Homo sapiens: one gene and its partner. The protein of the gene in region 2 interacts with the protein of the main gene of each other region in a biochemical or structural test. Each region holds a gene or a part of one and is shown on either strand. Other genes may lie near its edges.

Evidence for each region. Proteins that work in one complex are often made in the same cells at the same time.
Region 1: of the proteins of PRKCB (region 2) and ITGB2, one has a biochemical effect on the other in vitro, tested with the Homo sapiens proteins (one study listed by BioGRID).

Annotation. Positions count from the first base shown.
Region 1 is NC_000021.9:44,917,896-44,925,202, reverse strand, and holds the start of ITGB2 (integrin beta-2 isoform 1 precursor), read left to right. Parts: upstream 1-4,303; 5' UTR 4,304-4,382; intron 4,383-7,307.
Region 2 is NC_000016.10:24,216,983-24,221,142, reverse strand, and holds the end of PRKCB (protein kinase C beta type), read right to left. Parts: 3' UTR 1,183-4,160; coding exon of another isoform or gene 1,030-1,182; 3' UTR 532-1,029; downstream 1-531. UniProt on the Homo sapiens protein: Calcium-activated, phospholipid- and diacylglycerol (DAG)-dependent serine/threonine-protein kinase involved in various cellular processes such as regulation of the B-cell receptor (BCR) signalosome, oxidative stress-induced apoptosis, androgen receptor-dependent transcription regulation, insulin signaling and endothelial cells proliferation.

The sequences.
Region 1 (7,307 bases), on a different chromosome or scaffold from region 2:
CCCCTGAAAGATCCTTCTGCTCATTTGCAGTCACTTCCTCCTAGCTCCTTTAAAAAAAAAAAAAAGATATAAACTATTTTAAGAATACAGAACAGCATGGAGAGCACTAGTACCAATCCCCAAACAGCTACCTCTCATCTTACCAAATCTTAACATGTTGCCTGACTTGCCCAGAACTTTTTCTTCCTTTTTAGTAAAGAAAACTCTACAATAGAACTTTGAAGCCCTCTGCTTCCATCTCCCAGGCCCGTAGCCTTCTCTGTCTTCAGGGGTAACCACTGTCCTGCTCTAGGGGTGTGTGGGTCTGCAGGGACGAGGTGCATGTTATTCTTCAATGCCTCCTTCTACATTTTGCTTTTCAGAAGAATCTCAGTGTTACGGATCTGTGGGTCACGAGGCTTCAGAGCAGCACTTCAAGGGCTCTTATTCATTACCCCGTAGCGTGAGTGTGGCACCATGGATGTATGTGATCTAGGCTATATTTGGGTCCACTTTTCAGGAGTGCTGTTTTTTTTCTTTCATGCCATCCTTTGGACAGCATCTAATTTCATTCAATTGTGTCCGTGAATTTGGCCTCCTTATGGTCTTTGTGCTTTAGAATATGTGGTTATTTCCCTTGTGGTCTAGTAATTATGTGTTTATCATTGTCCCACTTTGTAACATAATTGTGTTTAAGTTGGAGACGAATGGTTACGTTCCTCAAATTCTCTACCTGCCAAATTTGCATTTCTATTTGATTTTTTCTTGTTTGTTTGTTGTTGTTTTTGTTTTTGAGTAAGAGTTTCCTTCTCATCACCCAGGCTGGAATGCAGTGGCACAATCTCGGCTCACTGCAACCTCTGCCTCCTAGGTTTGAGTGATTCTCCTGCCTCAGCCTCCCAAGTAGCTGGGATTACAGGCATGCGCCACCATGCCCAGCTAATTTTTGTATTTTTAGTAGAGACAGGGTTTTGCCATGTTGGCCAGGCTGGTCTTGAACTCCTAACCTCAGGTGATCCGCTCACATCAGCCTCCCAAAGTGCTGGGATTGCAGGTGTGAGCCACCGCGACTGGCCTGATGTGTTTATTTCTGAGAGAGATCTGTTAGAGATATTTGCTGTTTGGGGCTGTGTCAGTTTGCTTATATATTTGTCAGTCTTTGTTTTATATATTTTGAAGTTCGGCACACAAAGGATTATGGCTGCTGAACTGTCTGTGGATTCTGACTCTCATTGGCTACATCTTCCTTTGTCCATTTGATGCATTTTGCTTTGATTTCTATCTTTTTGATGTTACACGATATCTTCGTTAGTATTTTCTAGCACATACGTGTATTTTCCGTTTCTTTATTTTCAGCCTTCAGTGTTCTCTTTTAACAGTTTATCTGATAGAGAGCCTTTCTTACACTTTTTACTTTTTAATTGTGATAAAATATACATAACATAAATTCACCATTTTAACCATTTGAAGTTATGCATTTCCGTGGCATTAAGGACACTTAGTACTGTGCAACCATCACCACCAACTTCTCCAAAACCATTTCATCTTGCAAAACGGGAACTTTATACCCGCGAAATAATAACTTTACACTTCCTTGAAATGTTTTTTTAATCTTACTACAAAAAATTTCACACATCTACAGAAGTAGAGAGAATAGATTAGTGAAGCCCCATGTCCCCAACAGTGGCTTCAAAAATAATCAACTCACAGGTGATCTTGTTGTATCAACACCTCTCCCGACTCTCCCCCAACCCAACCCACCCCTCTTTATTGGGAAATAAATCTGAAACATTATACTGCACCATCTGCAAATATTTCAACATGTAACTCTAAAAGATGGGGACTTTTTAACATAACCACAAACCATTGTCACACTTAAAACAATTAACAATGATTTTAAAATATGGTCCATGCATTGCAATTGGTTCTATTAAGAGATTAAATCTCTTAATCTAAAGGGTCTCTCTCCCTTCGTCTCTCCTCTTGTACTGTGCTGTTTGCCTTGTGAGGGTTTCTTCAGCCTGGATTTTGCTAATTGCATCCCTACGATGTCATCTAACACACCCTCCTGATGCTTCTTTGTAGATCTAAAAAGTTCGACCTGATTCAGGCTCAATAGTAACATTTGTTCTTTCTATTTTTCTTGATTTCTATTGTTATTTCATCAAGACTAATTCATTAAAGGTGTGTGCATAACGTCTGCTGCGTCCGTGACGTTCGCAGCGAGGGTCATTGCTTACTTTAAGTCATCAGCGGGTGTAGTAGAATGGTATTCTCTTTCTGTCCTTCTTCATTATTTTCTAGGCTAAGTCTGTAATGAGAAGATACCCTTGACAGAGAACATTTCATTGGAACTTGTTTTGTCTCTTTATTTCTAAAACCCAACGCAAGACCTTGTTGATTTAAAACAAGAAAATGTAACCCATTCACAGGTGCTGTGATTCCTGATGGGTTTGAAATTATTCCCAATGTTTTATTGTTTGGTTTTTATTTACCTTTCTTGTTTGTTCTATTTTCCCTTACTTTTTTCTTTTAAAGGATTTGCCTTTTTTTTTTTTTTTTTTTCTCAGTTACCCAGACTGGAGTGCAGTGGTGTAAGCATGGTTCACCGTAGCCTCAACCTCTTGGGCTCAAGCAATTCTCCCACCTCAGCCTCCCAAGTAGCCTGGACCATATCGCGTGCTACCATGCCTGGCGAATTCTTAGAAAATTTTTTTGTAGAGATGAGGGTCTGGGTCTCCAAATGTTGCCTAGGCTGGTCTCGAACTCCTGGGCTCAAGTGATCCTCCCACCTCGGCCTCCCAAAGTGCTGGGATTACAAGTTTGAGCCACCATGCCCAAAATAAAGATTTGTCATATTTTTTTTCAGGTATATACATGCTATTTTTATTCTTAAGGAGACTCTTGAATTGTTAGCATATATACTTAGATATTTTCTATCAAAATGCCCACTGACAAGCATCTATATTCCTCCCCAGATAGGATGGAACGGCAATGTGCTCCCTGGCCCCTCCCAACCCAGTCCTCTAGGCGTTTTGTTTCACAGCGTTAATATTCTTACCACTATTTTTTAAATCAACAGGTTATGACATCATAATTTTTACTTATTTCTTTGCCCAACTTTGTATCATCTGCTCTTGTATTTCTCATGGATTTCTTCATGTCTATTTCTGCAAGACATCTTTAAAACAGAGTTTAGGAGCCGGGAGCCATGGCTCACGCCAGTAATCCCAGCACTTTGGAAGGCAGAGGTGGATGGATCACTTGAAGCCAGGAGTTCAAGACCAGCCTGGTCAACATAGTGAAACCCTGTCTCTACTAAGAATACAAAAATTACCCAGGCGTGGTGGTACATGTGCCTGTAATCCCAGCTACTTGGGAGGCTGAGGCAGGAGAATTGCTTGAACCCGGGAGGCAGAGGTTGCAGTGAGCTGAGATCACGCCACTGCACTCCAGCCTGGGTGACAAAAGCAAAACTCTGTCTCAAAAAAAACTGAAAACATAAAAATAAATAAATAAATAAAACAGAGTTTAGGGTAGTAATGTGTCTGAGTCCTTGCTCTGAAGATGTCTGATTTGGGTTTTTTTTCTAGGTATAATCTCTTTCCCTCCTCTTCCTCCTCCTCCTCCTCTCCCTTCTCTCTCTCTCTGAGCCTGTAGTATTTTCCCTTTCGTGTTCTGTGGTATCCTCCTAATGTCCCTAGTTAACAGGACCTCATCCATCCATCCCTGGGGTGTTCAGTGGCCTCGCAATCCACGTCCCCGCCCAGATCCGCAGCCTTCCTCCTGTGACCTGAGTGTCTCCTCCTCGCTGTCCCTGTTCTGTCCCCTCCCGCCCTCACATGCAGGTGGATGTCAATGCGTGCACGCACCCAGGTTTTCTTGCCTGTTCCCACCTCTTTATCCTCCTTGGCTGGTTCCTCCGCTCCATTCTCTGGCTCAGGAATTTGCTCCCCAGGGTTTTTCATTCCGCTCTGTAGCAGAATGTGCTACTGTTGCTTTCCAGCATCAAACTTTTCACTCCCATGGCCTCTGTGTTCTTCTTCCTAATGGGTGCCCTTTCTGCCTGGCGCTCCTGGAGGCCGGGCCCCTCTCCCAAGTGTGAATCTGATGGAAGCAGGTCCTTCTCGCCGGGACCTCATGTGAGAAATGACATGTCCCACCTGTCTCAAGGGGCCGCTCTCTGACATCAGAGCTGCTGTAGAGCGGAGAGGGGCAGGGGTGAAGGGCCACGGTGGTGCAACCCACCACTTCCTCCAAGGAGGAGCTGAGAGGAACAGGAAGTGTCAGGACTTTACGACCCGCGCCTCCAGCTGAGGTTTCTAGACGTGACCCAGGGCAGACTGGTAGCAAAGCCCCCACGCCCAGCCAGGAGCACCGCCGAGGACTCCAGCACACCGAGGGTGAGTGTGCAGAGGCCCCGCTATGTCCACGGTGATTTTTGGAGGGAAGCACTCTCCTGCCCCAGCCTGGAGTGACCCTGGTGGCCCTGCTTATAGCCCCGGCCCAGGGGTGTCTGGCAGGAAGGGGTCTCCAGACCGTCTGCTCCAGGGTCCCCTTTGAGACCCGGCAAGGGGAAGTGCCTGCCACCAAGAGCAGAGCCACATGGTGTGCTGGGAGCGCTTGCGGCTGAGGATGGGGCCGGCATGGGAGGACAAGGGGCTGTGAGGCCGGCAAGGCCAGGAAGAGGCTGGGCCCACAAGCCCCTAGGGGGACGGCTGGGGGGTCCTGGTGCTCCGGGCTGGGCAGGAGGCAGGTTCCCGGGGCCTCCTCTGTGAACCTGCTGCGCCTGCCTGTGTTAGGCCCTCCTGTCTGCATGCTGCCCCGCCTGGCTACAGCGATTCCATCTCCAGATCGACTCGCAGTGTGTGGTGTGTGATATGGTGTGGTGTGGTTCGTGGTGTGTAGTGTCGTGTGTGTAGTGTGGCATGGTGTGCATGTATGGTGCACGTGTGTGGCATAGCGTAGTGTGGTGTGTGTGTGTGCATGTATGGTGTGCGAGTGTGCGCATGTGATGTGGGGAGTCTGTTGTATGTACATGTATGGTGCACATGTGTAATGTAGTGTGGTGTGGTGTGGCACATGCTCCATGCTCCTCTGGGACCCTCGAGCTTCCCTGCCTCCTCCGTGGGGACCCCTGGGTGACGTCTTGCTGTAGGGGAGCGGGCACCGCTGTGCGATTCTGGTCGAGTTGGTTCAGCTGGTGACCCTGGCCTCCCCACAACAGGCTCCTGGAGGCCATTCCCAAGGTCCTGGTGGGAGGGGGATTGAAGCCACGCCCCTGGGTCCCAGGCCCACCTGGCCCCCTTCCCCCAACACTGCACTCTTGGGGCCAGCCCTCCCCATGCATCCTCCACCCCTGGCACCACCCCTTGCACCACCGTCCCCACACCCAATCCCCCCTCCCCTGGATCTGGGAGCTGGGATTCTGCCCTGCTGTCCCTGTCCATCCGGGGCCCCTCTCCTCTGTCAGTTCCTGGGTGGGGAGAAGGAGGGGTGGCATGGCTGCAATGGGGAAGGGGGGGGATGGCCGGAGAGCTCAGCCTGGGAGCGAGCTGTGGGGGCATAGGGGACACTCGCTGTCACTCGCCTTCCCCGTGACGGTGGCGCAACGCCTGCGGGTTTGGGGGCTGAGGCCGGATTCTGGAGGCTTCACAGAAATGAGCTGCTAGAAGCTCTGGGCTGTCTGCCGTCACCCCAGCGTTTCACCATGAGTGAAGCCCAGCTCACTGCAGAATCCATGCCCAGCTCACTGCAGAATCCCCGGGGGCCAGCACTTTACCAAGAGTGGCCTCCAGACTCCACATTTTAGGAAGGAACTCCTTCCCCATCCAGCTCACAGCAGAATCCCCAGGGTCCCTGCCAGCCTGGCACCCAGCGTGCCCCTCAGTATTCTGGGGATGAGTGGGGGAGTCCCTCTGCTGGGAAGAGGTCCCTGGCTACGTCCCTGCAGGGCGGCGGCTGAGCCCATGCCTCGGCCCCAGGGCCAGTCCCCGCCGGGTGCCATCCTGAGCAGGGCCACAGAACAGATGTCCCACATGGCCAGGACCCCTGTGGCCACCTGACCCCGGGGGGGCTGTGGCCCTCGGTGAAGCAGGTGACCGGGCGGGCTGTGGGGTTTGTCAGCTCCGCAGCGTCACTGCCGCTCAGCGTATGAGTTTCCACTCCCAGCACTCAATGAACAGCTGAGCAACTGCAGGTGCCTCCGAGTGCTGGGAGAGGGGAATGCTCAGCTCCGAGTGCTGGGAGAGGGGACGCTCAGCTCCGAGTGCTGGGAGAGGGGACGCTTAGCCACCCAAGGGCCTTTGCCTCAAGGGAGTAAATAGGGGCATTTCCTGGTGGGCGTGGGCTGGGCTGGAGAAGCAGGGCCTCCTGGCAGGGGCTGGCATGAGATCCAAACACTGCCCAGGCAGCTGGACACTCCTGAGCCTGGAGCTTCTCACCTGAACCACAGGGTGGTAACCCCTGCCCCTCAGGCGGCATCGACGTGACCTGCCTAGTGCACAGTGAGCCTGAGGCAACACGGCCACCACCAGGAGACTCCCTGGGGAAGAGGCCCCCAGACAGCGAGGTGCCCATGAAGGAAGTTCTGCACAGGGGCCGCGGCCATCCAGGAGATGGGAGGGGCCCTATCTGCACCCTGTCTGGAAGGGGCATGGGGTGAGCAGGCTATTTGGTCCCCCGTGACTCAGTTTCCCCATCTGTGAAACAGGAGGGGTGGTCTGGCCAATTGTGCGCACTCCAGCTGTCTCTATAGTCAACCGTGTAACTTGAACTCACTTCCCCAGGGCTCCTGCCAGGCCCAGGTCTGTCCACTCTGGCCCAGGCCGGGCCCCACCAGGTACCAGGGCTGTGGGACATTTGCCTCTGTGGATGGGGCAGCGTGACGCCTGTGGCGATTCCATGGAACAGGTCCTGTGTGGGCCCCCCTTGCTGCACTCGTGTCCTGTGTCAGAGAACCGTGGTCCTGCCTGAGGCCATGTCACCGGAGGCTGGCTCCCGTTCCCGGAGGAGAATGCCAGCTGCCACAGGGGTCAGTGACACAGGCATTTGCCCAGCAGGTACAGGCCAGGTCGCTGGGAAGCCCCAACTCAAGGGGCTCTGCAGTGGGCGCCTAGCAATTATGGAGCTGTGGGTGATACCCACCCCAAGCCGGACCTGGTGCCAGCAATTATCCCTCCCATTCTGCTTGGCACAAACTGGCACTGACACGGGGCATTGATTAGGTGGTTGCATTTGTCGATTCCGAGCCCATGTGTGTGGAGCCCAGGCCCTGAGCAAGCACAGAGGGCCCTGGTGCTGTCCTGAGCTGAGGCCCCTGCCCACCC
Region 2 (4,160 bases):
TCCTGACTTTTGTCATGGCTGGAATAAAATCTTACATATCTTGTGCTTGATACATAGCTTAATAAACACGAATCACATTGAGTGGGTGGCTGCACACATACCCTGATTAGGGGCACAAGAAAATATTAAGGTCCTCAAACCTGTGACTCACGAATGACAGAGGTTTCAACCTCAAGTGGCTATAGCAGCCAGGGAAGTGGATGGAGGGTATAAGACAATAGGGGGTGGTGGAGACTGTGGCAAAATGAGAACATACACTGCTTTTAAAGGAGAAGCATTTCTCAGTTCTGTAGAATTATTTCCATGTGGAAATACAGGCTCAGAGCTGCTAGTCTTTTGTTTCTTTTTTCAAGGGAATCTAAAAGTCCAGGAATTTATATAAAGTATCTTATTTTGTCATGTTCACAATGGTTTTGATTAAGTAAAATTCCATGTGAGTAAAATTAAGCTTATCTAATGGCTACAAACTGGATCTTCAGTCTGTAACCTCTGTAACATAGTCTATTTAAGAAAAGACATATAAACAAGAGCTTGCATATATTAATTCAGTTTAATCATATCAATTCTTAAACAAAAAACTTCCTCCAAGAGACAATAGTTCACAGTAACTGCAAAGCTTACTCACAATTTTTAAAAATATCGCTCATGCTTAGCATTCAAAGAAGATATTATAGAATAACTGTAAAAACTTTTACCAGGAACATCAGCTTCTGACTTGAAAAATTACAAATACTGAAGCATTTTGGTATCAGACACAGTAGTTTTGACATTGTCTGTTCATTTGATGAGTTTCTGGAAGTTTGGAAAATTGTACCTCTATAATTGGATAATGCGCTTATTCTAAACTAAACATTTTCAAATGTAGAAAACAAACTAGCAAGCTACACATACAAAGAAAAGCCCTCTAAGACAAGCTTTCCACATGTTGAATGCCAGCATGTGCACCGTGAATCCTGGAAGACTAGAATTGATACATACGCTTGGCTTGAAGTCTTACACCCCAGGCTCAACGATGGAGTTTGCATTCACCTACACATTAATGACAAACTCTGGGTTAGTATAAGAGAAGCCAGCAAATTCATTTTGGTCCAAGTTCATGATGAAGAGTTTATCAGTGGGGGTCAGTTCCACAGGCTGTCTGGTGAACTCTTTGTCGAAGTTGGAGGTGTCTCTCTTGTCTCTCTGCCAAATGGAAAGTAAACACATTAACACAGCGTAAGAAGAAAGACACAGGACCAAGATACGCCAGTCATTGGGTGGCTGATACCATCTCATGAGCAGAGTCAGAAAGAGCCCTGTGCTGAAAATTTTTAGCAGCTGCACTCCACGCACTGGCTTTCATTTCACATTGTATGTTGGCTTGGGGATAGAAATGTGGTGGAAATTTTCTAAGAAAAGAAGTAAGTCATTGAATGTCAGTTAAGAATTGCCATAAAGTGGTGTGTGTGTGTGTGTGTGTGTGTGTGTGTGTGTGTGTGTGTGTGTGTTGCTGTATTTTCTTTGGCTTTAGGATGAATTGAATTGGAAGCTACTTATTACCATGCTTAATGTTATAGAAATAATCATTAGGTAGAGCGTCCTGGAGAAAACCATTCAGTAGCAGCCCAGGTGGCTAGAAGACCTCTTTCTCTGAAAAGGTGAACTGCTGCCCATCTACTCTGCCCCCAAGAAGGCAGAATGGCCATGTGGAGAAATCAGATCACTGCTTAATGAAAGGAATTGACCACCGTCAGCTCGAAAATCCACCCACAGTCTAGAATTGGGTGTTTATCAGGCAGAAGTTCTCTCCAAAGACATTTTTAGCATGTGTCAACAAACTATAAGAGAGAAAACCCAAAGCTTAAAGGAGGGTGTGTAAGGGGAGCCTTAAAACAAAACAAAACAAAACAAAACAAAAGAAACTCAAAGCAACTCGATTCTCCTAGTAAGTCTGGCATTTCTTTTTTTGTTCAGTAGGGAGGTGGAGAAGAAATTAACCCCCATTTACTAGCAATTGCTTGGGGCAAGTCTCACCAGGGAACATCAGAATGTGGGCTAATAAAGGAATCTGTATGATGCTCCGACCTCTTCAGGGTCCTTGCAAGCCTCTTGTCTTTCCTCATCATCACCACACCCACCTGGGGCAGGTGGAGCTGGAGTCCTCACCTCCTATATATGACATATGAGAGAACCGAGGCACAAGCAGGCAGGGTGGCTTGCCCAAGATTTCAGTGGGTTCCTGATTTTTACCTGACCACATCGCTGCTATGTAGGCCTCATCACAGTCTCTCGGACTGGAGGGACAACCCCATGGCTGTTTTATTACAAGACAACCAGGGAAGAAGGCCTTGTATTCCCTAGTGCCCTGCACATTCCCGGGCTGCAGCCAAAGTTGCCTCAGATTATAAAGGCCAGGGGGTCGGTAAGGATTCACTGACTCATTAGCGTTTGAGCCATCACCACCCAGGCTTTAGGTTTAGCCCCCTAATGGGCACTAGCTGTTAAGGATCTCTCATTGCTGGGTTCACTCTCCTTTGCAAAAGACCTTTTACAAGACTTGCTTCTTTGTGGCTGCTCCCCTGAGATAGGTAAAATGTCTCTATGGAGTTCCCTCCTTACTCTTGCCAAGTCTATGTGAGGGTGTGGGAGTGAGGTGGGCACACTGAACTCAGGAGCACACGTGGGTATGTGTGGCTAGAGTGGGGCAGGCTAAGATGCTGATGGAGCTGTTTCCTGGGTAGGGTCCATCTCTACCATGTCCCACCTGCCCTTTTTGTCTTGTCCTGCTTGCTGTTAGCCTGTGGGGTGCTATAGGAGTTTCCATCCCCCAGGCGCTCGGCATGTTACTTCCGGTGTTCACAACAAAGCTCGAATGCCTCCTCTTTAATATTGTCTGTGCATCTCTCTCCCAATCCCCACAAGTCACACTTTAGCATCCTTTAATTATCTTGATTGCACTTATTGCTTTCAGAAATTGTCTTGTTTATTTATTATTTCTCTCCAAGAAACAATATTCTTGGAGAATTTCTTGGAGAGAAACAATAAACAGGGTCCTCATCTGCTTCTTCACTAGTGTATTTCCAGTGCTAAGAATAGTGCCTGGCACACAGTAGGTTGTTTGTAATTATTTGTGGAATGAAGGAAGACTTGGGATATGCCTCTATCCTTTTTGCAACTTATAATTGTCCCCGAGCCAGAAACTTTACTCTGAGGCAAAACAATGGAATTGATTCCCATTGATCCTAAAGGTCTCCCAAATGGGCCACTGTCCCTTTTGAACCCCTGTATGAACTGAACTGTGTTAGGGCCCCTAAAGGTCTGAGAACTCCAGGACAGTGTGTGAGCTAAAAGGCAGGTATATTTGGAGCTAGAAGACACAAAGCTGCCTTTTTTTTAGGTCTCCCCTGGTCTCATCAACCCTATTTCGCTTTCCCTGCCTGTGGGCCTCTTATCAAAGATTCCCTTCTGACCAGCCCCACCTTGGAAAGCCCTGCCCCGTTTGTTGTGCTGGTGATGGCTAATGCTTCAGATAACCACATGGTCCAGACAGGACTTGCTTTTATGGACTTTGTCCTGTGGGCAGATCCCCAGAGAAAATACTCCTGGATTTTACCGTAGAAGTTGGGAGAGAATAAGCTTCTCTGTTGAGATCATTTCTTTGAGGTTGATAGCATCTGAAGCCATGTGAAAACAGTAGCACTCATCCAAGGAGGGTTATTAATTCTACTGACCTCCCATTAATCCCCCAAGAAGGTCCTTGTTGCTATGGCCCTGTCCTCTCTTCAAAAAGCTCTGTTTCTCAGTTTCTTCTGCACTGGAAATGTGGATAGAAAAGGAAGTGGTAGAAATTCTGACTTTCCATGGAAAGTTTCTCTAAAACAGACTTTGGCTTGAGTATCTATTTCTGCAAACTATTAAACTTTTGAAAAATAATGGCAAGAATTTGGAAAATGTTGAGTGCAGTATTTATAACACTATATTCCTTCCTTCCTTCCTTCTTTTCCTTCCTTCTTTCCTTCCTTCCTTTCTCTTTCTTTCTTTCCTTCTTTCTTTTTCTTCTTTCTTTCCTTTCTTTCTCTTTCCATTCATCCTACATTGTTTTCTAAAGTTGTCTCAGATCATTTGTCAATGGCCTAGTGTTTCTCCATGGTTTTTATCTTCCTGAGAGCATGTCCAAGCAA